Homo sapiens: one gene and its partners. The protein of the gene in region 3 interacts with the protein of the main gene of each other region in a pairwise test. Each region holds a gene or a part of one and is shown on either strand. Other genes may lie near its edges. The genes, in order: PLP1, CMTM3, LEUTX, NDRG4, OLFM4, C3orf52 and AIG1.

What was found.
Region 1: the proteins of LEUTX (region 3) and PLP1 interact in binary tests that used the Homo sapiens proteins (3 or more experiments, as listed by UniProt).
Region 2: the proteins of LEUTX (region 3) and CMTM3 interact in binary tests that used the Homo sapiens proteins (3 or more experiments, as listed by UniProt).
Region 4: the proteins of LEUTX (region 3) and NDRG4 interact in binary tests that used the Homo sapiens proteins (3 or more experiments, as listed by UniProt).
Region 5: the proteins of LEUTX (region 3) and OLFM4 interact in binary tests that used the Homo sapiens proteins (3 or more experiments, as listed by UniProt).
Region 6: the proteins of LEUTX (region 3) and C3orf52 interact in binary tests that used the Homo sapiens proteins (3 or more experiments, as listed by UniProt).
Region 7: the proteins of LEUTX (region 3) and AIG1 interact in binary tests that used the Homo sapiens proteins (3 or more experiments, as listed by UniProt).

What each region holds. Positions count from the first base shown.
Region 1 is NC_000023.11:103,786,840-103,790,285, reverse strand, and holds part of PLP1 (myelin proteolipid protein), read right to left. Parts: intron 2,489-3,446; coding exon 2,320-2,488; intron 1,850-2,319; coding exon 1,776-1,849; intron 954-1,775; coding exon 888-953; intron 1-887.
Region 2 is NC_000016.10:66,610,466-66,615,051, reverse strand, and holds the end of CMTM3 (CKLF-like MARVEL transmembrane domain-containing protein 3), read right to left. Parts: intron 2,444-4,586; coding exon 2,415-2,443; 3' UTR 1,165-2,414; downstream 1-1,164.
Region 3 is NC_000019.10:39,783,602-39,787,314, reverse strand, and holds the end of LEUTX (paired-like homeodomain transcription factor LEUTX), read right to left. Parts: intron 2,789-3,713; coding exon 2,637-2,788; intron 1,618-2,636; coding exon 1,180-1,617; 3' UTR 1,024-1,179; downstream 1-1,023.
Region 4 is NC_000016.10:58,505,808-58,510,551, reverse strand, and holds part of NDRG4 (protein NDRG4), read right to left. Parts: intron 4,166-4,744; coding exon 4,079-4,165; intron 3,995-4,078; coding exon 3,938-3,994; intron 3,641-3,937; coding exon 3,537-3,640; intron 2,745-3,536; coding exon 2,688-2,744; intron 2,605-2,687; coding exon 2,553-2,604; intron 1,591-2,552; coding exon 1,543-1,590; intron 1,399-1,542; coding exon 1,363-1,398; intron 1,252-1,362; coding exon 1,200-1,251; intron 1-1,199. UniProt on the Homo sapiens protein: Contributes to the maintenance of intracerebral BDNF levels within the normal range, which is necessary for the preservation of spatial learning and the resistance to neuronal cell death caused by ischemic stress.
Region 5 is NC_000013.11:53,045,046-53,049,661, forward strand, and holds part of OLFM4 (olfactomedin-4 precursor), read left to right. Parts: intron 1-4,616. UniProt on the Homo sapiens protein: May promote proliferation of pancreatic cancer cells by favoring the transition from the S to G2/M phase. In myeloid leukemic cell lines, inhibits cell growth and induces cell differentiation and apoptosis.
Region 6 is NC_000003.12:112,091,731-112,096,474, reverse strand, and holds part of C3orf52 (TPA-induced transmembrane protein), read right to left. Parts: intron 3,116-4,744; coding exon 2,986-3,115; intron 1-2,985. UniProt on the Homo sapiens protein: Has a role in LIPH-mediated synthesis of 2-acyl lysophosphatidic acid (LPA). LPA is a bioactive lipid mediator involved in different biological processes, and necessary to promote hair formation and growth.
Region 7 is NC_000006.12:143,063,460-143,068,203, reverse strand, and holds part of AIG1 (androgen-induced gene 1 protein), read right to left. Parts: intron 1-4,744. UniProt on the Homo sapiens protein: Hydrolyzes bioactive fatty-acid esters of hydroxy-fatty acids (FAHFAs), but not other major classes of lipids. Show a preference for FAHFAs with branching distal from the carboxylate head group of the lipids.

The DNA of each region.
Region 1 (3,446 bases), on a different chromosome or scaffold from region 3:
ATTTATTCCACACCTCTGTTTGATCTAGCACTGAGTTTTCCTCAGGGAAGTGAACAATATTTGGGCTTTGCCACATCAATATGTCCGAGTGACTTAGAGTCATAGGGTGCTTGCTGTAGACACACAGCCACATCATGCAGTAGAGCTCTCCCCTGGTTAATGAATCAATTCGTTTTACAAGGTGAGAAATTACTTGACTCTGTATGGAAACCTCAGCAGTAGGGGCCAGGAGTTCTGTGAGCTCATCTTGTCTGATCACTGCTTATAAAATAACTTCAGATAAATCACTTCACCCTTCAGTGCCTTAGGTTTTTAATCTGCACAATGAGCACACTACATTCACAGGGCACTGTAGCACTATCAGCAAGACCTGGGACATAGCATTGTATTATAATCATAACAATTCTAATAATGTTAGGAGGTCCTCCCAGTATTTCCATATGAGTAACTAAATCCACTGGAGAGTATCCAAAGTGGATTCATATTGATAGTATATAGAATTCCAGGCTATAGCAAGTCATGTTTCGTGATGTTTCAGTGTTTTGTCACTGATCTGATCAAAATGTATTGAGAATTAACCGTAATTTATGACTGCAAAGTACTTGGCAACATTACATGTTCTATAAATACTAAATATTATCATTCGTGTCTATGAATCTCTTACCTCTTTCCTCATACCACTTTTCTTGTTCCCATCTAATTTGTGATGTCTTTCTGCCTTGCCAATGCAAGTAGAAGTACGGAGCCTCCACCCTTTGCTATCTTCCCAGAAGCTTCCCTCCAGCATTTCAAGGATGGAAGCAGTCTACCTTCTTGCCTTTCAGAATAGCTGTACCCACACTATCTCAGGCCTATTTACTTGCCAAGATCATTCAAAGTCAACTCACCAGGGAAACCAGTGTAGCTGCAGCCCCCACAAATGCAGCAATAAACAGGTGGAAGGTCATTTGGAACTGCAGGAAAATGAAAGAGGAAGAACTGTTTCTTGCAACAGCAGTAATATGCTCCACTGTAAATCATGAATACAGCTTTCTGAATGTGTTGATATCTTTCTTGTGTGCTAATTCCACATCTCTAACTAAGTTTTCACTTCCCTAAATGTGGGCCTCCCAGTCTTCAGTGTACACCATAGCACCTGGCCCATTAACACCCAGATCACAGAATAGTCATGAAATAGTACAGTACTCCAAAATAATTAACTGGTTCCCTACAGTTGTGCCCAGGGGCCCAAAATTTAAAGTCAACATTTTGCTGTCAAAGAAATAATTTACTGCCTGTCTCCCCCGGATTTACTTTTATTCCCCTGCCTCATTTGTATATAATATCTGTTCTCAATACAGTGCTTTCCCTTTCAAATGTACTTATTTTACCTCTCATTTGAGATAAAGAAGTTCCAAATTGAAAATGTTTTCATAAAACCTATGAATGCCTCTGTGCACAGCCCATTTTCTTGATATGGTTTTTAACTAAAGGAATGAAAATTTTCATGTGGGGGATTTTGCCATTAGGCTCTATCTTTACCTAAAGCTACAAACTTCTCTTTTAAGAGGGGAAGGGTTGGAAAGGAAGTCTTTCTATGCAACTCTAGAGAAAACAGGTGTTTTACCTTCTATGCTCATTGGCTCAGGCACACTTAGCCAACATGTTGTAGAAGGCAATCGGCTAATTCAAAATCCAGCAAAGGGAAACTTTCAGTCCTTAAAATTGAAGGCCATGGGTGTAATTTGTATGGTATTAGCTACTCCCTTGTAAAATAACCCAAATAACCCACTCACCTCAGCTGTTTTGCAGATGGACAGAAGGTTGGAGCCACAAACCTTGCCAGGGAAAGCATTCCATGGGAGAACACCTAAGTAAGACACAAAAAGCAAGCAGGGTAAGCTTTATGGAGTTACGGGGCCACATGGAGACTTTCCCCCAGAGCCCTTCTTCCATCTCTAATTATCCTGGCTGTAAAGTTGGATTCTACCAACAATCAGGATCCTCTTTTCTACAGGTTTACAAAAAAGAGAAGGTGGTATTGAACAGTGGTGAAACCTTGTGTTTGTTATTGAAATGTGCTGCTTTGGGGTTGTGAACAGCAGTCAACTAGAGTAGGCCAATGTGAATGGCCAAGAAAACTCCCACCACTTCCAAGTTCCCTTCCCGGGGAAGAAACCTCTCTGGTTTCAGTAGGGAAGGATTAATAAACTAAGACCCAATCATTCATCATCTTATATTTTTCTCATAATCACCACCCTCCTTACACTAAGAAAATAACCAAATATATAGTGCTTCCATAGTGGGTAGGAGAGCCAAAGCACCCGTACCCTAACTCACCATACATTCTGGCATCAGCACAGAGACTGCCTATACTGGCAGAGGTCTTGCTGGGGAAGGCAATAGACTGGCAGGTGGTCCAGGTGTTGAAGTAAATGTACACAGGCACAGCAGAGCAGGCAAACACCAGGAGCCACACAACGGTCAGGGCATAGGTGATGCCCACAAACTAAAATGATTGACATGGGGTGGTTAGAAATCAGCATCAGCCTGCAGATGTAGAAACACAAACTGGGAGATCCTGGAGTGGCGTGTGCCAGACATTAAAACCAGGTTCCAGGGCTCTCCTTCAAATGAAATTAGTGAGCAGGGCACCTCTGCCAAGGGTAATTGGCAGTATCTACTAGATAACTGGCCCCAGTATAACGGAGGGTGGGGGGAATGGGTAGGGGAAGAGTGAGGAGGATCCCTGGGTTAGAGAGGCTTCAGAGGATGTTTTTGGGCAGATAAGGTGTAAAGAAATCAAAACAGATCTTGAAAGAAAGTCGTGCCATTTTGTGCCTTAGGCTGAGCTTAGAACATGTTCCTTGCCATAGGAACATTTTTGTTCCCTAGCCATTGAACAAAGCCAATAGGAGATTAAAATTTCAGATACAAAACCTTTCTAAGCTAACTGCTGGCCACAAAAAGACATTGCTGGAACCCACACATGTTCAGCCGCCAAAGGATCTTTAACTCCAGAGACTGAAAACAAATGTGCACCTCACTCAAAGCATGGATAACCCTCAGGCAATAAAACATTCAACATGCAGATCTACTCCAATTCCCTCTGGGACCTCGAACTGTGCAGGATCCCAGAACATTGTAAATTTCACCTTGGAGTTAATTATTTAATTTTTATTATCCATCCTCCCTCTCAGATCAGGTGCCCAAGTCTCAATCACATGAGCAGCATTTTAGACTCTTGTCCAGTTAGATCCACTCTTGTGGTACCTACTAGGAAGGGAACAAAGGGATACCAACAGATGGCTTAGAAATGGTCTGATTGTACAAAGCATCCCACAAAACTCATGCTTTCTGTTTTGAGAAGAAATTTGCTTAGGGAACCTTTGAAAGGTGAGGCTAAGCCAGCTGGGCACCACGTTCTTCCTGACCTTCTCGTTCGGCTGCAGCCATCGCTTCCTCAC
Region 2 (4,586 bases), on a different chromosome or scaffold from region 3:
TGGGCGTCCCCTGGCTGGCCTGGCTTTTGGGTTCAAGTCTGTATGTATGGAGTGGGTTGGGGCCCCAAAGCTTTGCTGCTATTGATTTGTCCCCGACAGCAGGCAAAGCCTCACATTGCCCTCAATTTTCCCCCTTTCATTTGAAGGACCAGTTTTTCATGGTACTTGTCTTGATCTTTTTCATAGTGTTCAAATCTGTATTTTTGTATGTAGAGGGAAATAATTTTCTCAACACTAATCGTTAATAACTATTGTATTAAATTGTCATGAAGGAACTTGTTTAATAAATGGACGTGTAAGGATGTCGTTGTCTCTCCTCACTCTGAGTGGCCTCCTCTGCCCCTTAAACGTTACGGATCCAGTTCCTGAAATAGGGCTGCTGTGTGGAGGTTGAACAGAGCCACGATCCTCAGGGTGGAACAAGGCCTCTGTGACACCAGCTTTGCCGCTTTGCCAGGGCTTACAAGGTGGAATGTAAATTCCACCAGGGGCCTCTCCACTCCTGCACACCCAGCTTTCTTACCCATTTTCAGCACATGTGGTGTGTGACAGTTTGGGTGGAATGTCTTGTCTTTTCCCATCAGCCTGGATAAGAATGCGGACCCGGGTCCTCCAGGGCTGTAGTCCTCTGGGCTGTTATGCAACCAGCTTCCAAACCAGGAGAGCCCCAGGGTTCCGGCTGCCTGAGGCTGCCGTGAGACACTATCCTGATGTGTAAGTGAGAGGGCCCTGGGCCAGTTACCCGACCTCTGTCTCAGTTTCTTTGTTTATAAAACAGGGTAGTGTGAGAACTAGAGCAGGGGTCCCCAACCCCTGGGCAGTGGACTGGTACCATGGGACCTGTTAGGAGCCAGGCTGCACAGCAGGAGGTGGGTGGCAAGCAACGGCATTACCGCCTGAGCTCTGCCTCCTGTCAGATTGGCAGTGGGATTAGGTTCTCATAGGAATGCGAATCCTATTGTAAACTGTGCATGCTACGGATCTAGGTTGTGTGCTCCTTATGAGAATCTAATGCCTGATGATCTGAGATAGAACAGTCTCATCCTGAAACCATCCCCTCCCACCCTCACCCCAACCCACCCGCCAACCCCCAGTCCATGGAAAAACTGTCTTCCACGAAACTGGTCCCTGGTGCCAAAAAGGTTAGGGAAATAAAGGATTAAATGGTAGTCAGATTTCACGTGTATTTTTGCTAAAACTGAAAGCTGTCAGGATCCACATTGGTGTTACCAGTTTGTACTGAAGCCTGATACAATACCCAACAGTATTGCTCTGGTTTTTTCAAGCACACACTCCAAGCAAGTGGTCAGTCTGGCTTAATTCATTATGGCTTTTTTTCAGGGTAAGAGATTCACACGCAAGAGAATAAGGCTACAAATGCTCCAAACATGGGTCCAGAACTCTGGCTCTTTTGTGAGGCCTAGAGTCACAGAAAATGCCATCTGTTAAGAAGCTGCTTTTGCATAAAAAAATATAAAAAGTTACAAAATTCCATCAAAGACAGATACACAGTATAAATCGTTAGGTGAACACAGAAGGCTGGTCTCATCTCCTGCAGTGGCCCATAGACCTGCCCTGAGGTCTGGAAGTTCACTGTCCTGAGGGTCCAGGAACTCCTGCCTGCTGGCTGGGCTCTAGGAAGAAGGAGGGTTTGGCTGGGCCCGCCCAGCTCCCCATGACACTGTCACTGTGATGCCACTGTTGTACCCTCTGTCTTCTGGACCAGTCAGTCTATGAGCTCTTCTTTGAAACAGTCTTAGACCCAGAATGGTCATCTCACCCCCAGAAGACATGGTTTCCAAGGGTGGGAGGTGTTAGTTATGGGTGCCGAGCCCCACTTCCTGGGCGACAAGGCAAAGGTCAATTTCTCCCTGCTTCAAGAATGAAGAGGGAACTGGTGCTCCTTGAACCAAAGATTCTTGGAAGGGTCATTGTCACCAAAGTGGCTGGTGTGGGCAGGAGCACCAAGTGCAGACAAACCCACCGGGGCCTGGCGGGGCAGCCCTGTCATGGTTTCTGTCTTTGTTCCTGTTAGTGAAACAGAAGACCCCCGACCCCCGCCACCTAGCAGCATGGAACACCTGCTGCCCAGATACAGACAAGGCTCTGCTTTGTCTCCTTGTGCTGGTTTTTGGCAGAGACGTTAAAGGGCTGAAGGCCTGTGGGACAGAAATGGGGAGAAGGAGTGGGATACCCAAGATGCCCTCATACGCAGCGTGGTCAACAGTGCTGAGCTGAGGGGCAAGCCTGGTAGGCTGGGCTCAGGCAGAACCTGAGGCTGTAGGGGGCCTGCTGTGTCCGCAGCCCCCTCTGCAACTCAGAAGTCCAGGCCTCCGCTCCAACGCCAGCGACCCCTGTGAGGCGCAGGGGTGGAGGCCTGTGTGGCTCAGGTTGCCAAGGCACCCGCCAGGCCTTCAGTCAGAGTCCGAGTCGGAATTCTCTTCTGAAAGGAAAGCAGAGAGGATGCTTGGCAGGAGGCTCAGGGCAGCGGTGCCTGGGAACGGTCTCTGGGGAAGCACAGCTGGGTTGCTGGCAGGAGCCTGGGTGCAGGCCTCCTGCAGCTGACTCTACCGTTCCCAGTGATCGCTGGCATCAGGGCAGGCCGCGGGCCTGAGGCCCTCCACAGGCAGCAGCCACTTTCTCTCTCTCTTTTTTTTTTGTTGTTGTTTTTTGTCTTTGAGACAGAGTCTTGCTCATCACCCAGGCTGGAGTGCAATGGCGGGATCTCGACTCACTGCAACTTCCTCCCTCCCGAGTAGCTGGGATTATAAGCGTGTGCCACCACACCTGGCTAATTTTTGTACTTTTAGTAGAGATGGGCTTTCACCAGGCTGGTCTTGAACTCCTGACCTCAGGTGATCTACCCACCTCAGCCTCCCAAAGTGCTGGGGTAACAGGCGTGAGCCACCGTGCCCGGCCGCAGAAGCCACTTGCACCTCCAGGGTGTGGGTGCGGGTGCAGGTGGGGGTGTTTCCACCCCAAGACTGAAGCCCAGGTGCCCCTTCCTCAGGCCCAGCCCCTCCGGAGTCTCCCTGGGCTTTTCTCAGCTGGGTGGGTCAGGGCTGTACCTCTGCATTCCAGCTCTACCCCCACCCCCAGGTTCAGCAGGACAAGGTGAGGACAGCTATTTTCTTGTCCCCCAAACTAAAATATACTGGAAAATCAGCAAGCCTCTTTTTAGCCATTTTATATCTTCAATCCCCCTCCCCCAATCCTTGTTTAATATTGTAATCAGAAACAATTTTATAATGGTAAGGGCCTGCCTATGAGGTGTACCTCGAGGGTTCCTGAAATCCCAGTTCTGTCTCGGAGCTCTGTAGAGCCTTCTGGAACCTCCACCCCAGAAGGAAAAGCACCAGAGTCACTAACCCCCAACCCCACCCCAGTGCTGGTTGCTACTTCCTGATGCTCATCCCCTCCCTGGCCAGCCTCTGTCTCTCAGAACCCCAGTCAGTCCCCATGAGCTGTCGCTGGCTCATGGCTGGGCTCAGGGCTGGGGTGTGGGCAGCCTAGTCCCTAAACCCCAGCTCTGTCCCTCACTCCGGTTCCTGGGCTGCACTCGTCAGATTTTGTGGGTTTTGCTATATTCAATTTTTTCCCCCCGAGATGGAGTCTCACTCTGTCGCCCAGGCTGGAGTGCGATGTCTTGATCTCAGGTCACTGCAACCTCTGCCTCCCATAGGTGATTCTCCTGCCTCAGCCTCCCAAGTAGCTGGGATTACAGGCGGGCACCACCATGCCTGGCTGATTTTTGTATTTTTAGTAGAGATGGGGTTTCACCGTGTTGGCCAGGCTGGTCTCAAACTCCTGACCTCAAGTGATCCACCCGTCTCGGCCTCCCAAAGTGTTGAGATTACAGGCGTGAGCCACTGTGCCTGGCTGCTATATTCAATTCTAACATATAAGTCAAGAATAATTTTACAGCAAAATAATTGTTACATATGTGAAACTCTCCAAATAGTAAAACAAAAAAAACAAAATAAAACCACCCAAGTTTCCACTGACGTTTACTAATTGGTCCCTGGGCTGGTTGTCTGGGATCACTTGCTGCGGGCAACTGGGAGCAGGTTGCAGAGCCTGAGGAAACCGCCTGGGAGCTCTAACCTAATATTTGCCAAGGGACGGGATGGGATGAGTGGCATTCATTTTCAGCAGAAGGACGGTTTCTGGGATTCACAAATCCCCATGGCCCCAGCACCTGGCTGTTAGGAAACCAGTGGCTCTTAAGCCTAACCTACTGGTCCTGCCTAGGGAAGATCCCAACCACAGGGTGGGGCCTGCAGGCCCTTCCAGAGCTGCCCTTGTCTACCTGTCCAGCCACAGGCACTGCCAGCACAGGGGCACATCCGCCTGGTCCAGAGAAGCATCTCCCCAGGCAGAAGCGCCTGCTGTCTCTGCTCTCAGCCTTCTTCCCTACACCGGCCTGGTCTCTTCTGCCTGCACACTCCTCTACTGCCATCTGTCAGTACCCAGCTCTAGTGTCCCCTCCAGAGCCTCGGGCCAGCTGACACCCAGCGTGGGCCTGCTTTCAGCTACTGTATCCCTCCCTCTATCGGCTCCTGTTTTACTGTCGTCATTGCTGCCCC
Region 3 (3,713 bases):
GGAGGAAGGCTAGCCCTGAAGTGCTTGTGTGCCTGCTTAAAACCACCTTTTTCTCTGTGAGCTAGGGAGACTCACATATGCCTAATCCCTTCCATTTCCAGAGCTAGGGGATTTAGGATGCAGTCCCTTGAGTGCAGGTATAAAAGTTGGGGTGCTCAATGTGTGGACAAACTTCTTCCAGGAGGAATTGATAGACCTGGATTTATTGCTGGGCTGAGCTGGGGTGAAGCTTTGGGTGGCACCTAGCTTCTGTTCAGGCTCTTGTAAGTCTGTAGTTTACCTACCTAGTCAACTCCCTGATGCAGGCTCGTTAGGAACTTAACCATCAACTGTTAGGGTGCTATATGTGTGGTTCACTGCTTCTCTCCTGGGGGAGAAGCTGGGAACTGGGGATTCCTTCCTGATTGTATGGCTCAGTGCCCAGGGTGGGTTTAGTGTTTCTGAGTGCTTCAGCTTTTGCTGCCTGTTTGATAAGACATTTTTTTTCTTGTCTTTTCTTCCTTTTCTTTTTTTTTTTTTTTGAGATGGAGTCTTACTCTGTCGCCCAGGCTGGAGTGCAGTGGTGCAATCTTGGCTCACGCAACCTCCGCCTCCCGGGTTCAAGCAATTCTCTTGCCTCAGCCTCCCAAGCAGCTGGGACTACAGGTGCCCACCACCACACCCAGCTAATTTTTTGTATTTTTAGTAGAGACAGCGTTTCACCATGTTAGCCGGGATGGTCTTGATCTCCTGACCTCGTGATCCACCCACCTTGGCCTCCCAAAGTGCTGGAATTACAGGCGTGAGCCACCGCGACTGGCCTGCTAAGACATTTTCTTAGTTGCCTGGTGTGTAGGAGTCTCTCCACTCACTTCTGACTTTCTTCCAGAGAGAACTGATGTAGGCACAGACGTTTATTCAGTCCATCAATCAGGAACCTCCTATGTCACTGTGTTCCTGGCGTCACTTCTCTGAATACAATCTTTAATGCTGAAATTTGGGTGAGGAGGCACTCAAATGGAGTTCAGAAAATGCAGGCAATGATGAAAGGTAGGGGAGTTCCTTTATTGTTTTTTCTACAGAAAAAGATAAATTCCCAGCCCCTGATCTACTTAGACTGGGGTCAAACCATTAAAGATGTGTGGAAATATGTCTCAGTGGGTCAGATCCAGACCTCCCCTAGAAGTGATGTGTAAGAAGTTACACTGAAGATTGGAGCTGGTCATACTCAAGGCATACTGGAAAAAGATATTGATTTAGGCTGCTGGTGTCATCTTCCCCTGGCAAGTCATAGATCTTTACAAATTCATCTATTTCAAAGAGAGTGGAGGCCCAAGGAGGATTTGAAGCCCCCAGACATATCTGTTCAATGTCATATGACTGAGAATCCCAGGATGAAACCCTCGCAGAGGCGCTGGCTCCTCCAGGATTCTTGATACCAGAAGGCTCACGTAGATCATGGTCATTTGCATCAGAGATTCCAGGACTTACTGGACGAATGTTTGCAGTAGTTATGGCTGAGGGAGTCTCCTCCTTCTTCACTGAAGTTGTCTGGTTTGCTGGCCCTAGTGATGGCCGTGTCTGCATTTGCTGCCGCTGCTGCCTCTTCCATTTGGCACGCTGGTTCTTGAACCAGATCTAAGGAGGGAGGAGGGGGGAGGTTAATAATGGATGTTGAGTATAAAGGGGCATCCTCATGTTCCTCAGGAATTCGGTTTTTTGGTGTGAGAGAGAGTCTCACATTTATTGGAACAAGGGAAGCCCTTTCTACTCTCTGCTGTCCTGGGTTTCAAGGGAAAAGTGGGTGTAGGATTGTACTAGCAATGGGTGGAATATGACCTAGATTGTGATGTATTAAATAGAAGGGTGTTTTTATTAGTGGTGTATTTTTTTTTTTTGAGACAAGCTACCACTCTGTCACCCAGCCTGGAGTGCAGTGCTGCAATCATAGCTCGCTGCAGCCTTGAACTCCTGGGCTTAAGCAATCCTCCTATCTCAGTCTCCCAAGTAGCTGGGACTACAGCCATGTGCCTCCATGTCTGGTTAATTTTTAATTTTTGTTTGTAAAGACATGGTCTTGCTATGTTGCCCAGGCTGGTCTTAAACTGGGCTTAAGCGATCCTCCTGCCTCCACCTCCCAAAGTGCTGGGATTACAAGTGTGAGCCACCATTCCTGGTGCCCAGAGAAAGTATTTTAAAGTCAGAGTATGGGGTGAGAGTTTAGCTTGGGTCATCTTTAGGGTTCATCCAGGTGTTCTCCCATGAATACTTTGTGGGAACTTAGTGACAGGCATCTGGATGACTGTGATGGTCCTGATTAAGCAGAACCCATCCTGAATACACAAGAACAGACCCAAATGGGAGTATCTGAGATCCAGCCTCAAAGAGTCCTGTGTAGCATGGTGGGTCTGGAGTTGGAAAGGTCTGGGTTCAAATTCCAACTCTTGTGTTTATAATGCTTGGAAGACAGCTCTTCTATGTGAGCTTTAGTGTTCCTCAATAAAGTGGGTGCTCATGACAATAAAAATATAAAGTGCTTAACATCTGTCCTTACACATAGCAATTGCCAATAAATAGGAACTGTTATAACAATGATCAAAAGTGTGTGTGAAGCTCTGGGTTAGGCGTGCTACCTACAGACACACTTGGGAACAGACCTTTACTACGGATAGATCAAGTTGTAGCTTTGAAGCCAGTTTCCCCATTGTAGCCAAACTTGGGTGCATGGTCTTTTCAAGCAATTCTCTCAATGCTGTGAGTTGTTTGGAGAGAAATCTTGTGCGTGGCCGACGATAACGCCTTGGCCCTTCTGCAGAGGGAACAGATAAAAGGCTTTCATTAAAAAAATTCGGAAGGAAATGAGGAGAGTACTACATCAAGGGAACACCTGTGGGACAAAAGAATCTGAACAACAGCCTTGAGCCCTAGACCGTCCCTCTGACAGAGCCTACACAAATGAGAAGGAACCAGAAAACCAAATCTGGTAATATGACAACACAAGGTTCTTTAACATCCCCAAAAAATCACATTAGTTCATCAGCAATGGATCCAAACCAAGAAGAAATCCGTGATATACCTGAAAAAGAATTCTGAAGGTCAGTTATTAAGCTAATCAAGGAGGCACCAGAGAAAAGTGAAGCCCAATTTAAGGAAATTAAAAAAAAAGATACAAGAAATGAGGGGAGAAATCTTCAGTGAAATAGAGAGCATAAATAAAAAATAATAAAAACTTTAGGAGACAATGGACGCCCTTTTATCCACTAGACCTAAGAAATGAGATAGACAGCAACACAATGACCAAGAACCCAAAAGCAAATGCAATAAAAACAAAGATAAATAGCTAGGACTTTATTAAACTAAAGAGATTTTGCATGGCAAAAGGAACAGCAGAGTTCTAGACAACCCACAGTCTAGAAGAAAATCTTCACAATCTATACATTTGACAAATGACTAATATCCAGAATCTGCAACGAACTCAAACAAATTAGCAAGAAAAAAACCAAACAATTCCATCAAAAAGTGGGCTAAGGACATGAATGACATGAATAGATAATTCTCAAAAGATATACAAATGGCCAACAAACATGAAAAAATGCTCAACATCACAAATGATTAGGGAAATGCAAATCGAAACCACAAGAATGGCCATAATAAAAAAAATAAAAAAAAATAGATGTTGGCGTGGATGCAGTGAACAGGCAACACTTCTACACTGCTGGTGGCAGTGTAAACTA
Region 4 (4,744 bases), on a different chromosome or scaffold from region 3:
AGCCAGAGAGATGGGACAAAGGACAGGCACAGAGAGGCTGGGGGCAGGGCCAGAGGCTTCTGGAAGCCCACTCCTGCCTGCCCACCCAGCAGTGGCCCCCAGAAGGATCTCTGGCCCAAGGAAGCCCTGACAGGTGGGGTGCTTATCCCCTCACCATTCTCCTAGGCCTCAGTCTCCTGCATACAGAATGGGGGAGGCCTGCCCGCTCTGTGCCCTTCCCAGCTTGGGGCTGCCTGGTGGAGTTTCTCCCCAGGACCCTGAGAACGCGTCTCAGCGCCTGACAATGTTCTTCCGTTCACCTCGCAAATGCTTGCTGTGCCCTGATTCCAGACTCTGTGCTCCTGCGGAGCCTCCCTGTGGGCCCTAGGGCTCTGCCCTGCTCCAGAGAGCATTCTATTCCTGGGTGTCCTCCCCAGCCTTCCCACAGGCAGCCCTCCTGTTTGCCCTGGAGATAGCTCCAGAGGCTGAAGTCTGGAGGGGAACAAAAAACAAACTGAGAAGAGGAAGTTTGCCTCCTGGCAGTGGGGACCTGGAGGAACAGGTATGTCTTGGAGGGAAGGGGGAAGTCAAGGAGACACACAAGGGGTGTGTTGTGTGTGTGTGTGTGTGTGTCTGTGTGTGTGTACCTGGTTCCACCCCAGACCCAGATTTTCAGATCTGCCAAGCCAGGTTCAGCTGCTTTCAGCTCTCTGAATGCCAGGCGGCCCCAGTTGCCTTCCCTGGCCCCAAACTCCAAGCCCACTCCTATGATGCCCCTGGGTGCAGCCATGAGTTGTTTCAAAAGGCCTTCTCAGGTGCCATAGACCCAGCTCTGACCCCAAGCCCTGGGGCGGGTGAGGGGAGTGTGCCTCACCCCCAGACAGGCTTCCCTGGCAGGACACGGCCCCTGGCCCTGGACCCCCAGCACGGAAGGAAGAGTCCCTTCCCCCAGTAGGCCCAGCACTGCCATCAGAACAGTGCGCCAAGTCCTCCCTAAGGGCAAAGGGGAGTTGGGCACAGCCTGGGATGGCCAACTTGCAACTCAGGTGGCATCTGTGGGGCCCAGCATCCGGGGCCCAGGTCACACAAAACTCCTATGCTTATGGGCTCCCTACTACCACCTGACACCACGTGCCAGCCCTGCAAACAGGAGCCCCAACCCCAGCACTGCCTGCCCACCGGTCTCTAGGTGGTGTGGGGTGGGGTGGAAATGTACTCACTGTAGCCCATGCCTTGCAGGAAGTATTTGAAGGCTTCAGTCAGCTTCCCTGGCTGCGGAGGGCAGGACAAGCACATGCTTTCATTGGCTGCCTAGGATTAGCAGGTAGGGTAGAGGCTTCCCCCTCCCCATAGATGTAAGGGCAGGAGGGCCAAAAGTCTCACCTGTGTGACCTGGGGCAGCCCTCCAGAGTCTGCCATCTGCAAGGGAGAGAGTGGGGTGACCTGAGCAGGGCCCTCACTCCAGGACAAGCTCCCACCCTGGCTGGGACCCCAGGAAAACACCTCCCTGAGGTTGGGCCCATGCTAGGGAAGCTGGCCCAGGGCTGGGGAAGAAAGCCTCACCTTCAGGAAGGTCGTAGTGGTCGGGTCCAGTTTGGAGTTGCACTCCACCTGAGGACAAGGAGCCAGCTTCAGCAACAGCCCCTGCCCCTCCCCACCCCCATTGCCAAGGCAGGTTTGATGCCCCAAGCTCGGGGAGGAGAGGGGGTGCAGGGAGGCAGAGGGAGGCCCAGCAGCTGTGACAGGCTGCTCCTCCCAGGCTTTCTTCTCCCAGGGCTCCCCATGTTCTTGGAGACCAGTTTAACAGCCCCACTGAAGGGCCTGGGACCCTTGGAGCCCACTCACAACTGCTAGGAGTGGGAGTCAGGCGAGGGCTGGGCTGCCGTGGTGGGACTGGCCTGGGAAAGCCCCAGTGCCCTCGGCAGTGAGGTGAGGGGTGCCGAGGGTCTGAGAGAGACTGGGTGGAGGGGGCTGGCACAGCCCACCACCCTGCTCTTCCAGGACCTCCCAGTGGGCATGGGAAAGCCTGGTATTTTCAGGGCGCACGGGGCTGCTCTGGGCACTTCTGGACCCTGCAGCTTCCCAGCAGCTCTGTGCTGATGGGGCATCCCAGCCTCAGGCCACCTGCTCCCAGAGTTCCAGCAGGAGAGGTGACACACGGCCCCCAAACATAACCGCTGCAGGTGACGGGAAAAGGGAGACCGTGCCGCTGTATGCGTTAATGATTTATAATGGCTTGATCACATTTTAGAAAAAAGATCGTACACCCTGGGCCTGAGGTGGGTAGGGACCAAGTTGGGGCTGTGCTGCTGGGGAGGGAAGAGGGGACCTTCTGATGGCCCAGCCCTGGCCCCAGCTCTCCCCATTTCCAGGCCTCCCCAGCCAGAAGGATGGGGGCTATGCCAGATGTGAGGCTTGGCAAGACTGTGGGAAAGTGGACAAGAAGCCCACCGTCCACTGCTGGCCCTGGAGGCTCCCCTGGGCTGGATCAAGAATTGTCCCTGCTGGGCAGGGGCCAGTGAGCCCCTCACCCCTACCTCCCACCCCCAGTGAGCCCACAGCCCCTCACTTACCACCCCGTCCTCAGCGGGTGCATTATCCCCAACCACCAGCATCACGGGGCAGCTGCAGATACAGAGGAAAAGGGCTGTCTGGCTGGGTCATGGGGGCAAAGGCCAGGGCAGGCCAGAGGGCCAGGGGCCACTCACCGGAGCGTCTTGGCATTGGGCACCGTTCCAGGCCGGTTAATGTCCAGGTCTCTGCGGCTGTGGGGCAGGGGGAGGGGCAGAGGCAGAGGTGGGCACCCCAGGACAGGATGAGGGGCATCCCAAGCCCAACACTGCCAATTGGTAAAGCAGGGAGGCGTGGACCTGCTCTGCATAAATGAACTGGAGGCTCCCTGTCACGGCTTTTTGGACTCCCTAGCACATACCAGGTGGGCTCTCAAATTTTGCTCTCTATCCCCCTCAGAGCCATGCGCACCGCCACCTGTGCTGTGGGAGTTTCTGCTACTGGCCTGTCTCCTGGACCATATGGGATGGCAGGCCCTGGGTCTCTCTATTCTCTATTGTTTTGTTTTCTTAGCACCATGCACACAGCAGGTGCTTAATATTTGTAGAAGAATGAGAAGGAGGGCACGTGAGTGAGGGGGCCTGGCCACCTTCCTGCAGGGCAGGGCAGCCCCTAAAGGGGGCTCCAAGGAGCACAGCTTGAAAACCACAGGCTCATCCGACCTCTTCCTCATTTTGCAGACGTCAACATCAAGGCTGGGTTACTGGAGTCAGGGATGTCACTAACACCCCCAACATTCCCAAGCGGGAAGCCCCCAGGGGAGGAGGAAAAGTGGAAGAGCCCAAGGCCCGGAGTCTGAAACCCTGTTCCCCTCTGCCCCTCACAGGGTGTGACCTTGTGCAGGAAATGACCTCCTTTGAGGCCCAATATCGTGCCCATCTACAAACCAGGGCAAGGGTGTTGTCTGCCTGCCTCCCTCAGGGGGCAGTGTGCAAGGGCCCCCACTGGGGTGTGCTGGGTCCCAGGGCTGCTGATCCCACCCGCACCTGTTGTACATGTTCCAGAAGAGCTGCAGGTTGGCCTGGTTCACCACGTTCCCAATCTGCTGCCGGTAGCTCTGCACCAACTCTGTGTTGTTCACCAGCTCCTCCTAGGCCCAGGGAGATGGATGGAGGCATGCAGAGGGGCAGACAGAGGGACGCAGGCTTAGAGGGGGCTGGCAGATGTCACTGCCAGAGTGGCCCTTGCCCCACTCAGCAGGCAGGGGAGACAGGGTGGGGGCAGGTAGGAGGTGTGGGGCCTTGGGAGGGGATGTCTGTCTTTCAGATGGCTTAGCATCTGGAGTGAGCCAGGTCAGATGCCAAAGACACCCGCCTGCCTCCTACCGAGCCAGCTGGGAGGGGCAAATCCCAGATCACCCCAGATCTGCAGAAGTTCCCCCCCTTACCTGGCTGAAGAGGTGGGAGAGCACCGTGTCGGGTAAAGTGCTAGTTAGGCCGGAGAGCTGCAGGGAGCAGGGCGCCAGCGTGAGTGCCGCCCCTCACCCCACCCTAGGTATACCCACCCCACCCCCGGTCACCACACACACCTTGGTGGCAGCCCAGTCTATCCAGCCTTTGCCATTGGGGTCGATGTTCACCAGCACCAGCCCCTCCACCAGGTCGGGGAAGATGAGCTGCAGTAAGAGGGGAAACAGGGCCGGGCGGGGCCAGGATGGGTGCAGATGGCAGAAACACTCTGTAAAGTCTTCAAGGTGCTGCTGATCAGCCACCCGGCTACAGCCGGGTCTGTGCATGCACACCCATGTCCAGATGCCCCTGCCTGTCCTCCTCTCACTGAACCCTTCACAGTTCTTGGATTTATTTAGAATCTCTATCATTGTTTCCACCCCTACACACACACAGACACACACACACACACACACACACGCTCTTTCAACAGAATCAGCTCTTAATATATTTTTGAAGTGCAAAATTGAGTATTAAACATCTTAAAATCTTAAGCATGTTGTTTTTTTGCTTTTATAGAGAATGAAGCCCTGGCCAGGCGCCGTGGCTCACGCCTGTAATCCCAGCACTTTGGGAGGCCAAGGCGGGCTGATCACCTGAGGTCAGGCATACGAGACCAGCCTAGCCAACATGGTGAAGCCCTGTCTCTAATAAAAATACAAAAATTAGCCAGGCGTGGTGGCATGCACCTGTAGTCTCAGCTACTTAGGAGGCTGAGGCAGGAGAATTGCTTGAACCAGGGAGGT
Region 5 (4,616 bases), on a different chromosome or scaffold from region 3:
CTGAGGCCACACAAGTAGTTAATGACAGAGCAGAAGCTGCAAGGCAAGGGTCTTTGCTCCCTGGTCAGTTCAGGACCGAAGGTGTCAGGCAGCAGTAATCCAAGGACAACGGTGGGGAGAAAATGCATTGCTTAGTATCCAGGGAAGAAAACAAGTGAGCCTGTTGGGTTGTTTTTGTTGGATTTTTTTTTTCCCAGAACTTTCCCCTAGGCCCTCACACTTAGACTTCTGTGATCCATCCTAGCCCAGCTGTGTTGTTTAAGCAAATTGGACCCAGATTTTTACTCACTTTCCCACAACCTTGGCTGTACCTGAATCCCTGCCAAGCCACTTGGCTCTCTTCCAGCTTTGTTCATATTATATTTATGATGTTTATATTAAACTGACTTTTGGTCATGTTTTTAAATCAATTTCTTTCACTTGCTCTCTTTCTGTTTGGATTGGTTGATAATGCAGAATTGGAAAATCCCCAAGCACCACAAACTTGTGAGCCTGTGGAGACTTTAATTAAAGTTATTCTCTATTATGGGACTTTAAAATCTGGCCTGTCTGCTTTTTTCACTGCAGAGTTGCACAGAATAAAAAAGACTATATGCAAGTCTCAGCTCTAAAGTAACTCTGCGCTCTCTGGGCCCCCTCCCTTATAGCTACAGTTTGCTGACCCAGTGGTCAGCTTGAACTTAGAACAAGTGAATGTATCCCAGGTTCAATAAAATATGCTTCCTATTTGGTTTTTGCTACAAACAACGTCCTTTTTCTGCCTCATTTCATAGAACTTTCTAATCTAAAATAATTGGCCTTCTACTCATTAACTTTTTTCCCTTAAAACTTCAGTCTGTCTCTGTTTTGCCTGTGAATCTAAATGACTGTATATAGGCCAAATGTGATCGGGTGCTCAGGGGTTGATCTCCAGTTTGCTTGGGGATGCAAGGTTCTGTGCTGGTCCATAGTGATGCTCAGTAAGTAGCTGATGATTAAATGGGGTCTGAAAGAAATGGGGTGACCTGCTAAAATCTCAAGCTTAGGGAAGAGCCACATGTTGAACAGCATATATCCAACACTTCAGAGTCAATTTAGTCTTAATCATTTTATGACTATGATTGTTTTAATTGCCTAATTCTTATAAGTCAATCATATTCTCCTCCTGGCTCAAACAAAGTTCAGTTGCCCAGTTGAGAGAGTGCATTAATAGATCCAAGACTAATTTTCCTCTGTAGGCATATAATTATTGGCTTCAAAAAAATGCTACTAACCATGATACTTTTAAAAAGCCAAGTCAGAATATTTTAAATTCTCATGATTATGGCTTCCTCAGGTATTTTCAGAGTACCATGGTGCCATCTAATGAATTGCATGATGAAGAGAGTGCCAACCAAGGCTAAACTTCTATAGAGGGTTCCTCAAATTATGTTCCATGGAGTAAATGCCAGGCTTTTTGAAAAACCAGATATGTAGCAGGGTAGAAGGCTAGTGTTTTATAAATAAGGGTAAGCTGAGTTTAGGTGACTTGATTAATCTTTCATTCCTTTATTCCACAAACATAATTTGGTGCCACTGTGTGGCTGGCCCTGTTCTGGGTACTGGGGTTACCAGCATGAGTAAAGAAACCTCCAGAAGCCACTATCTAGGAAATGAGACATCTAAACCTCCAGTTGTAACATGATGTGATTATATTGAGATATTTACCATTTACTGAGTAACATTTACATGTCTTCTCTGTATTTTTCGTAACTATTTTGCAGAGTTGGTATTATTTTTCTTCTGACATGAGGAAACTGAGGCTCAGAAGGTTAAGTAACTTGCTCAAGGATACACAACTACTGTTGGAATCAGGCTTTGAATTAGAATCTGTCTAGTAGTATTTTCCATACTAGGCTGCCTTCCATAGCTGCTCTAACAGAGAGGTGCACCTGTGATTTCTGGAGTGAAAAGAAAATTCCAACAACTCACCTATCTGCTTAACACCAAATTATTTTTGCTTCCTTGGTAGTGGAGTAGGTAAAAGGGTACTGTTGCTCCTGACAGTTCTGTGCTGTGTGTTCTCTTCCACCAGAAAATGCAAAATGATTCAATGGTCTTTCAGAATTCTTGGATCATGATTGGGCAATGGGCTGTTGCCCAAGTGTCAGGGTGAAATTGGGATGGAAACTGGGTATGAAGTATGGAATGAAGTATGTCTAAGACCTTGACATGAAGGAAGGGGCTGGCAAGGAGCATGAGATAAGGGAGGGTGGTGAGAAGCTCAGTGAAGATGGGATGGGGGGATGGGGACTCTGAGGAACAGTGGGCACTGGACTGGCTGTCAGTTTCAGTATCGTGTCCAAGATGGTTTGCTGCCAGGAGTCGAGGAAGCCCGCCATAGCATTTTTCCTGGTCTGACATTGTTGTGGCCACATTTGTAGCATTGGCAGCAATGTTGAGTTCTCATCCCCATTTCCACTTCCTTTCTACCACAGCCGGGGCCCTAAAAATAGCCCTTTATCCTTACCCATAGAGGATAAAAGGAGGATAACAAATGAACAGGAAAGTGTTTAGGAATGTTTGGGAGGTGAGAAAAACAAAGTTTCATACATTTTAATATTTACACTGGGCAATTTGAATTTTCTGGTCAACTTATGAAATGATGAGCCACTATTACTATTAGTAGTAGTAACAATAGTAATAGTACTAATACTATTATACTAATAATAATGCAATTAGTTTTATGATAATAGCAGTAGTAATAGTAATTTTTTGAGAAGTTTATTTTGGTTCCTTCATGTCTAAAAATTTCCACATCTGGGGACAGAATAGTTTAACCTCTTGGTAGTGCTTGAATAAGTTATATGCATCATCAATTTTCCTTAAATATTTTGTTGCTGTCGGTTTGGGATATTTTCTTTTCAGGAAGGCAAGACTCAATGAAGCAAACAATTATTGTCTTCCAACCTGAAAGAAAAAAAAGTGACTTTCCTCAGAGTGAAATGTAGTTAAATAAATAAGTTCTCAGGAAGATACTTTAGCTAGAAAATCCAGTTTGTAGCATATGGAAACTTGAACAGTTTTTGTTATCATTAAACTGAACACACCGCTAACTTTATTTTAATAATTCATGCATTGTTTCATAAACAAAAGCAAACAAGCATTCATCTGAGAGATCACTTTTAGTAGAAGAAATAATAATTTATAATTTTATTTATTATTTCTTCAGTGGAGAATAGTCTCTTGGCTGAAAACACGTTGCTTTTTTATTTATGAAATGGCACATGCATTATTAAAATAAACCTGTGACTGTGTTCTGCTTAATGATATGCAAAATTATTTGAGGTTGGATACAGAGTGGTTTCATTTCTCTACCTGTTGTATGGTTGGCTGGCTTTCTCACCAACTGTGGATTTATGAGAGCATTTAAGGAGCATATATTTAATTCTGGGACCAAAAAGCCCCAGCCGATTGGAAAAATAAAAACAGAATTTCTAGTAATGGTTTCACCTTTGAGCAGTCCTTGGGTGAGGAGGATGGGGAGGGAAAGCATTTAGCAAGGAAAGGAATGGGTCTTTCCATATTGGACACAGCAGAGACCCAGAGACAAAGGCTTTGCTCCCCCTTCCCCGCCTCCATGCTAATCTCAGGCAATTCTTTGGAGCTCTGCTTTTGGCTCCAGCTCACCTCATGTTCCTCAATGGCTCTCTGAGTCCCTGCAAGTATTTCAGGCCAAATCCAACAATTCAGGTTCTGCTCCTTTCCTGTCTCACCTGCTCTGCTCTGAGCAGCAGGACGAGGGAAAATGACCTCAAATATACTTGAAGTTGGGTTTTCTTTGTTATCCAATAAACCATCTCATGAGTTTTTTTGAGTGTTAAGATCCCAGAAAATGTGTGTTCAACTCTTTGGATAGTTATTATAAAAATACTGGAGGAACTTTATTTTATTTTTATAGCTCATAAACTCCTGGGATGGCAGGCATTTCAGCGGGAGTACAATGTGAAGGGTTGATCGCCCAGACTGAGTTATTTACCCAAGTGTTACAGGGAATGTAGATTCAGTGGACCAGTGAATCTTGTCCCACTTGATTGTACACATTGTGACAATGACAGTGTCTGGATGGAAAGATGAAATACTTGCATGTCATTCTATGGCACAATAGCATATGGGTTATGAACAGCAGGACTCACCATGTAACTCTGCAGCAGGACGGTCAGCAAGTGATTTATTGATGGGCTGTGCATTGGGTACGGAGCAGGCAATGTTGCCCCAAAATAACTTTATGGCTTCTCAAGGGTGAAATCCCACCATTATAGGACCATCTTTCTGGATCTATAAAATGCTATATTTAAAACATCCTCTTCTGAGAATAGCTTAAAGCAGGATTGGTACCTGGCGTGGATGTGCAATTGGGGGTCCCAAGGAAGGGGAGAGTGAGGAAGGGCATGAAGCCTTGCCTGGGAAAATCTTCTCCCTCATCACTATTCTTTCTGGGATAGATTTCTATAAATCTTGTGGATTTATAGAAATAGGGTAGGATTGTGGAATAATCTTGCTTCCTTGATTTTGCTATAAGAAAAACAAAATAAGATAATATTTGCAAAATGCTTTCTGATAGAAGGAAATATATTAAATTCACCAAGTCTCCCTTT
Region 6 (4,744 bases), on a different chromosome or scaffold from region 3:
CTCAGGTCTAAACAACCTTAACGTTATCTACATGCCATAAATCTTGCCCTTATGCAATTATAAAACACATCCCTTCTGAAGCATGCATACCCTTTTTCTGTGGTATTTAAGCCCTGGGCCTTTGGGGTAATGGTGCAGGAATGCACCATCTCCTCTCACTGCTGCCCAACGCATGGCTTCTGTTCCTAAAACCCTGTTAAATGTTTCTTTCTGAGTAACTGGATTTGTCAGTTTTTCTTTAGCCTCTCAGCTTCCTCAGCCTTTCTGGGTAGTTTTGCAAAGACCTGCCTACTGAAGAACAAAAGTTAACACTTCCGCCTCCAAGCTTCAGTCTGAAGACTACAGAGCCTTGAGACAGGAGATTAAGGGGTCTAGAGAAGGGTAAGCAGGCAATGAATGGCAAATATAGTTCCTGAGGAACCTTAGTCACCCAGTAAATCCAGACAGCCACAGGCACAGCCCTTGACTCTCCCAACAGTGTTTTTATCCCCAGACAACATTTCCCATGCAGTACTTGAAAGTTCCACAAATATCTGATTCATATTAATGGGCTTGGCAATTAGGAAGTGGCTGATTATTGAAGATCATCCCCAAAAAATGCCTACGGAACTGCTCTAGGTGAGGCTGGGACTGTCACAGAAGGGAGCCCCTGCCCCACCCCTTTTAACCTACTGTATCTCCCCCCACCCCCACGTCTAACATGACTCTCCCCACAGGATCAAATACCTAAGAGCTGAGATGCCAAGTAAAATACAAGTATTTCCTTGATTTAAAAAGTAGTTTGAAAAAATCTCTCTTACAGCATTGACATGTTCGAACACAAATTTACAGTTAAATTAAAAATAAAGTTTGCACTACAAGTGTTAAAAAAATTCTTCCCTGAATATTATCCCATAACCTTTTACATCTCCAGAAAAACTGTGGAAGGAAGTGAAATACCTTCCTCTTGCAGACTGCTCTTTGTGAGGTGAAGAGGTTAGATGACTTTTTGAGAATGGAAGACAGATCCTGGGTCTTGCGCTTTAGAATCCTGAATATTAAACCATCTAGATCTCTTGAATCATCCTTTATGATAGGCCCCAGATGCCAACAGGATCCAAATATCAACTTCTAGGATAGCACCAACTAGTTATGTCAGGACAAGATTGTGCTACTCAACCTCATTTTCAACATCCATGTGTTGGAATTGATATGAATAGGAAGTATGGCAATGCTCACACCAAAACTATTGTCCTCAGCATGACGGAGGAGGTGCAGCACACTTCATTAGCTTTTTCCTACCTTAACACCAGCTTATATCCTCAAACAGTCATCCAACACACCTGAACAATGCCCTAAGTAAATACGTAGATATGGTGCCTGGCCAGGAAACTTATGTGCTGGAGGTTGGCTGATGTCATCAAAGTTTTCCTATTCCTTCAGGAATTACAAAACTCTAAGACAGGAAATTAAGGGGTTGGGAGAAGGGGAAACAAGCGGTAAATGGAAAATGTAGTTTCTGAGGAAAATTCCTGAGAACTCCCTCTGGAGAGACTGGGGAGTTACCCCTTCTTCTTCTCATTCTATGACTGGGTTTGTAACTGGGAGCTGGACTCAACCCATGCCGCATGAAGGCTGGATCATGCTCGGGAGTATCCCAGCCTCAGTCGAGCCCCTCTCTACCATCACCCCCACATATAAATAAAAACAATTTTCTTCTTTCCCATTTTGAATTGAAATGATTGTCCACTGGAGGATGTAAAAACTTTAACGAATACTAATAATCATTAAAAAATTGGTAACTACCTAAAGAACTTTAAATGATGTGGAAGACTGTATCATGCAAATCATAAAAATAATAATGTTCACAAATAATTTTTAATGACTTGGCAAAATGATCTAAACATAATATCAAAATCCTAAAGGTAGTCCACAAGACTATAAAGAAATCTAATCTCAAATTATTTTAGAAATGCAACTAAACAAAAGACTAGAAGAAAATATGACCAAATATTAATATTACAGATGGGTTTTATGGGTAACTGAACATATATCATTTTTCAATCAAAATAAGCAACAACATGAAATAATATATGGAATAGATGTAGTCATATATAGTTAGCATTCTATACATTTTTTGTTTTATACACACATACAACACTAATAAAATAAACAGTCATTTCTAAAACAAGTTAAAATTGGGCCAAGCATGGTGGCTCATGCCTCTAATCCCAGCAATTTGGGAGGCCAAGGCAGGCAGATCACTTGAGGTCAGGAGTTCAAGACCAACCCGGACAACATGGCAAAACCCCGTCTCTACTAAAAATACAAAAATTAGCTGGGCGTGGTGGCACATGCCTATAATTCCAGCTATTTCGGAGGCTGAGGCATGAGAATTCCTTGAACTTGGGAGGCAGAGGTTGCAGCGAGCCAAAGTCGTGCCACTGCACTCTAGCCTGGGTGACAGAGTAAGACTTTCTCTCAAAAAAAAAAATAAATAAATACAATAAGTTAAAATAATGACAGCTTATGGACACATGGTTCTTCAAAGTTTTTTAAAACTCTTTCAAATACATTATTTATTATTTTATCATCATAGTAATATATCAGACACACCAGATGAAGTATAATTATTTTTAGCAAACAAATGAAAAGAAAAAGAATTCAAATCAACAGGTATCAGGATATAAATAAAATATAAATCAGTGTTTAAGTAAGTTGAAACATTAAGAAACCTCTTCAAGATCCAATGAGCAGAGTTTAAAGTAAAACACTGGTTTCTATATTTCTTCTGGAGCTTATAAAACAACAAAATACAACAACAACAGAAAACAAAAACACAAGAATCAGGCATATCTCCCACCCATACAATATATTCCAAGCCGGTCTTAAATTCACATTATAAATAATGAAATGGCTATGAGTACATCTTCCATTTCAGTGTAAGTCACAAGCCTTAAGTAAGTTCTTAAAATGTGTTATTTATTCACATCTAAATCCTCTTACCTGCAGCAAGACATAAGCCTATGATGATCACTGTAATGACACCTAGGAAAATGGAGGTGATGATCATCCACAGTTTGCATCTTCCAACCACATTCTTATTACAGGAGCTCCAGGGGCTTTCCTTGTTAGCCTAGAAAGGCAGAGGGAGATTGTGAGGCAGTCATTGTGTTGCAACAGACAGTTCTGAATACCTAGGATGTGCCAGAGACACAGAAATGAAGGCAGCAAGACCCTGACCTTAGGGCAACACTCTACTGAATCAAGTTTTCAAAAAGAGAGATCAGAGGCAGAACAGAACCTCATCAAGAAGTTAGCAAGAAAATCCTCTGGGGGCTCTGAAGTGGGGAGGATAGGCAGGATTTTGAAAGATGGATTTTTGAAGGCATTCCAAACCCAGGAAAGAGCATCCAAAGTGTGGATTCGTAATGGAACCGGCCAGCAGACTAGCCTGCCGACTGGAATGTGGGTTTCAGAGGCAAATAATGAAAGTTAAGATTAGAGAGAGTGAAAGGCTGGGAGCACACTCAGAGGGTGTTGATAGCTGTCCCAGAATAGATTGGACTTAATTGGGTGTGCACTGGAAACTTGAAGGTTTTGAAACACCAGAGCCGAGTTGAAAATTAAGGGAAAATCATGTGTGGTTTAGAGTGGAAACACCAAGAAAAAGCTACAAGGCTACTGCTGTGGCCTAGGTTCTATGTAAAAAAGGGTTGGGAAGGGAAATGAAAGGACAGCTGCAAGAGACAACAGGAAATAAGCTGCAAAGCTGGAGTGAGAAGGCTGGAGTGAGGCAGAGGAGGGGTCAATGAAAACAAGTACAACTGCTATGGTTTATTGAGCACCAGCGTCATTTCACTTAACCCTAACAGCCCTTCAGGGTGTGCACTAGTCCATTTCAAAGACGCAATTCAGAGAGATGAGCCAGAACCAATCCCTGCTGTGTGTCTCCACAAAGCTCTCCAACTTTCCCTTTTGTCCACATCACTGTGCAGAGCTCCGGTTTATGAGGGTGTCACAGAGGGGCCCCCACCTTACCCTATATGGTCCCATGACTCTTCTCCTACTTCCCACTCCACCATTAGATAATTCTTTCATGGAGACCATGGGAAACAACAGAATACAATGGGGAAAAAATGTGTCTGTATCTAACACACTTGGATTCCAAACCAAGATATACCACTTAAAGGCAAGGTGGCTTTAAGCAAGCTACTGAAACTCATAGGCCCCAAAGTCCTCAGCTTTAAAATATATAAATAGTAAATTAGCTCACAGGACTGTTGCAAAAACTAGAGATAATGGACACAAAGCATCTGCTAAACAATTATTGGGAGTTCGGCCAAAGGGTGCAACTGCGCCTCAGTCATTCCTCAGCGTTCACCATCCCACAAAGCAGCAGCCGGCACTCGAGGAGACTCGCTCCTGACCGACACCTGGCCACCTGGCCTGCTTTCTCTCCCATTCTTTTTTTTTTTTTTCTTTTTTTCTTGAGATGGAGTCTCGCTCTGTCGCCCAGGCTGGAGTGCAGCAGCACGATCTCCGCTCACTGCAAGCTCCGCCTCCCGGGTTCACGCCATTCTCCTGCCTCAGCCTCCCGAGTAGCTGGGACTACAGGCGCCCGCCACCACGCCCGGCTAATTTTTTGTATATTTAGTAGAGACGGGGTTTCACTGTGTTAGCCAGGATGGTCTCGATCTCCTGACCTCGTGATCCTCCCGCCTCAACCTCCCAAAGTGCTGGGATTACAGGCATGAGCCACCGC
Region 7 (4,744 bases), on a different chromosome or scaffold from region 3:
GCAGTTACCAATTTTGCCAAATGTTATACCAGACATGGGGGAATGGCAGGAATGGGAAAAGAAGTGACCTCAACTAGTGGTCAGATGACTTTCTGTAATTTCAATACCATTTGCAACTAAGAGGGAATGGGTGATTATATCATCAACTATTTCCCCCACTCTAACAAAACCAGGCCCCTATTTTATGCCTGATCCAAAAGAAACATGCAAAGAAGGTGAAGAGGATTCTATGCAAAGCATTATTCTCACAATTCTTCCTCCAGGTTAGGAAAAAACATTATTTGAGCCTTCAAGTTTATATGCATATTTTAGGGTCAAGTCTGAGTCTCCTGAAGAAAAAAATTGCAATTTTACACTCTCTGTATAATATCCAAAACCCCAAAAAACAAAAAACAGAAAAAAATCCACCTAATTTTGTTCCCTGAGTACTCAATAAACTACTGGCCTTCACGTGGCAATGTGTGGTTTTGACTGGCAAAACTAAGTACCATAGTTACATAATGACATGCAGAATCTCTTCTCAAGGTATTTTATTTCCTATTTAAAATTAAGTCATGAACTAGAGACAAGAATATGTTTTATGATAAGTATGTAAATAAATATAAGACTAACTCAAATGCAAAATGTAGTATACTTAAGCAGCTTATTTTCCCTCTTTAACATTTTTTAAATGTCAAAAATTCTCAGCATGTCTAAAAGCAAAAATGGTATCGTCCAGGTACACTTGACTATTTCCTATTCTTTGAGCACCCCAAGCTTTTCCACATCTGAGACTTTATTTATCCTCATCTCTCTCTGGTTTTCTGAAATTCCTTTGCAATACAGATTTAGATAACAAAAAAAGTACCTAGATTATATTACCTTAAACTTCTACAAAAATGCCTTCACCTAGCCAAAATATAAGACCATGCCTTTGGCTTTCATAAAACCATCAAATAAGAAACATTAACCATAAAAATTTTTCTATATATTACACTAAAAACCAATCAAAGACATTATCTACTATGCTAACCAATGTTTTTTTTTTATTTTTATTTACAGACAGGATTTGGCTCTGTCACTCAGGCTGGAGTGCAGTGGCACTATCATAGCTCATTGCAAACTCGAACTCCTGGGCTCAAGTCATCCTCCTGCCCCAGCCCCCACATAGCTGGGACTACAGGCACATGCAAGCACCCCCAAATAATGTTTAATTTTTTGTAGTGGGAGCCTTGCTGTGATGCCCAGGCTGGTCTCGAACTCCTGGGTTTAAGCAAGCCTCCTACCATGGCCTCCCACAGTGCTGGGATTACAGGTGTGAGCCACCATACCCACCCTTAATGTTCTTTAAATAAATATCTGAGTGATAAATTACCTTGAAAAGTCAGTGCCTGGAAAGAACTGTATTTTTCCCAATAAATTGTTATACCTCCTTTCTTTCAACATAAGGACAATACAATCAAATGTGTATTGTTTTTCACCTTAGTTGCCCTGAAGATTATTTAAATTTGTTTCTCAATAGCAATAACTAACCCATCTCTCGTATCTGAAACATATCTTTCTTTTATTTTCAAATTGTAATTTCTTACATTTTTTTGTTATATCACAGTGAAAGTCAATCTGTAATATGTTTTGAAAATAGGCAGAATTCAGGCCAGGCGCGGTGGCTCACACCTGTAATCCCAGCACTTTGGGAGGCCAATGCAGACAGATCACTTGAGGTCAAGAGTTTGAGACCAGTGTGGCCAACATAGTAAAACCCTGTCTCTACTAAAAATACAAAAATTAGCCAGGTGTGGTGGCAGGTGCCTGTAATCCCAGCTACTCGGGAGGCTGAGACAGGAGAATTTCTTGAACCTGGGAGGCGGAGGTTGAAGTGAGCCAAGATCACCACTGCACTCGCCTGGGTGACAGAGTGAAACTCTGTCTCAAAAAAAAAACAAAGAAAATAGGCAGAATTCATATATTAAGACTGCTCTACAGGGTCCTACAATTAATCCATGTAAATGAAAAAACAATGCAACTTAGAGCAGCATTTATCAACCTTGAATGTGCATAGAAATCACCTGATGATCTTATTAAAATGCAGACTCTGATTCAGAAGCTCTGGGGTGGAGCTGGAGATGCCACATTTCTTACAGGCTCCCAGACAAAGTTGATCCTGCTGGTCCTCAGCCCGCACTTTGAGTAGGCAGGGCCTGAACAATATTCTGCCATGACATGAATGAAAAGCCAGTCTAGGAGGAATAATGGGTATGATACGGCCCTAAGAGAGGATGACTCTCAAAATGGCCAGTACTACAAACTAGAGCCAATGGGATTCCCAGATATGTTTCAATCTTTAAAAATCAAGATGTCTTACATCCATCATCAATATTTTAAGTTTTCTAAAAAATCCAGTTCATGGTTTTCAAAGAAGTTGATTCTGACTCATCTGTTAGACTCTACCATATACATATGAATAATGTTCTGGTTGATACATTTTTAAATTCCTATCATTTTGAATGTTTTTGGGAGGAGACAGGACAAGAAAAGAATACTCAATGAAAATTTGGGAAGAGAAAGCTTCCATTTACTTAAACATTTACTAAACACCTATTATACCCCAAATACTACTTTAAGACCTCAAAATACATTTGCCTTTTTCTTTTCATTTATTTATGTTGGTTTTATCCTAATTCTTCTTTATTATCTTTTGGGGCAATTATCATGTAACACACAGCATAATCATTTTGCTAGTGAATGAATCCACATCACTTGAAGAAAATTCATCAGCTGTGATATTGACTAAGAAAGTGTTAATATTTGAGTAACAGCTAGTTTAAATTTTCTTTCTTTCCAGCTTATTTCCAATTAAGTGTATTTCTTCTCCTGGCCTGACATGTTACTTAATGATAGTCTCTGAAATACTTCATAGTAAAGACCTAGTTTTTCCAAAGTTGTCCATGTCAGGCCTCTAAGCCGAAGCTCAGCCATTGTAACCCCTGTGACCTACACATATACATCCAGATGGCCTGCAGGAGCCAAGAAGTCTGGGGCAACCGAAAAACCACAAAAGAAGTAAAACAGCCAATTCCTGCCTTAACTGATTAACCAACATTACAACATTCCACCGTTGTGACTTGTCCCTGCCCTACCTTAACTGATCAACCGACCTTGTGACATTCTTCTTCTGGACAATAAGTCTTATGATCTCCCCACCATGTACCTTGTCACCCCCTTCTCTGCTAACAATAAATAACCACCTTTTACTGTAATTTTCCATTAGCTACCCAACTTCTATAAAGCAACCCCTTCCCCATCTCCCTTCGCTGACTCCTTTCTCAGACTCAGTCCGCCTGCACCCAGGTGAATTAAAAGCTTTATTGCTCACACAAAGCCTGTTTGGTGGTCTCTTCACACAGACACGCTTGACAGTCCAGTCTTTACAAATCCTCATATTGCCCACTGTTACACATATGTATGTCTCCTCCACATAATTTCATGGATGAAGTAGGAAAAAACTTGCATTTTTGTTAAAGCTAAAATTAACCAGTTATCTACTATACATAAAGGGCTAGCTGAGTCACTGCATTTATTTCATATAAGTACAAAAAGAGTTAAGTTTTTTTTCTAAGTCAGAGGCTTTAAAGCCAAGTATACTAGTTTTCTATTACTGTGGTAACCAATTACTATCAATTGAATGGCTTAAATGACACAAATTTATTATTTTACAATTCTGGAGGTCAGAAGTCCAAAATACACTACCATTAAGCTGTCAGCAGGTATGTGTTCCTGGAAACTCTAGGAGGAAAACCATTTTTTTGTCCTCTCCAGCTTCTAGACACCTCTCACACCCCTTGTCTCCTGGCTCCATCCTCCATCTTCAAACCCAGCATTGTCGTATCTCTCTCTGACTTTCTTCCAGTCACATCTTCCTCCAACAAGCTCTTGTCTTCTGTTTCCCTATTCCTTTTAAGGACCCTTGTAATTACATTGGGCCCAATGGGATAACTCAGGATAATTACCCTATTTTAAGGTCAATTGATTTGCAATCTTAATTCCATCTGCAACTTTAATTTCCCTTTGCCATGTAACCTAATGTATTCACAGGTTCCTGGCATGAGAATGTAAACATCTTTGGAGGCCCATTATTCTGCCTACCACACCAAGACAGTGTTCTTTTTCCATTTACTAACTTCAATTTTCCAAAAACACCTTAGTTCTCTTACAGTTTCTCAATACTAGGAAAAGAAACCATTGGAGAATAACAGTATAAGATTACTGGTAGCAACAATGTGTATTTCAGTTTTTGACCATAAGCTCTGAATCTACTGGAATGACCCTCATACCCAAGGAGAGAAATGAATACAGCCAGAATGGCCACTGCCACATAATCATCTGCTCCTGGATGCATAGAGCCTGAGATTCCTGACTCAGATCCTGGTAAACTGAAGCCATGGAATATGGAATCCAACTGTGGCTATCAGGATAAATGATTCCTGCAATCCAAGTTGGCTAGAAAAAAGGGCCTTCACATTACAATTTTAAAAAGTTAAACTCTTGCAAAATTACTCCAATAAACTTAGACTCATTAATATTGTACAAGGCACTAGGTAATAAAGTTTACGGTCTTTTTAACATTAAAAGTGAAAAGTAAAATGGCTAAATTATAGTAGCCTAATCATTTCATGCCATTACTGAGGATTGACAGGTTGGTTGTTTTAACAGCTGTACAATGCTTAAGCTCTAAGGATTCTAAATCTCAAATAATAAAAAGAATAAC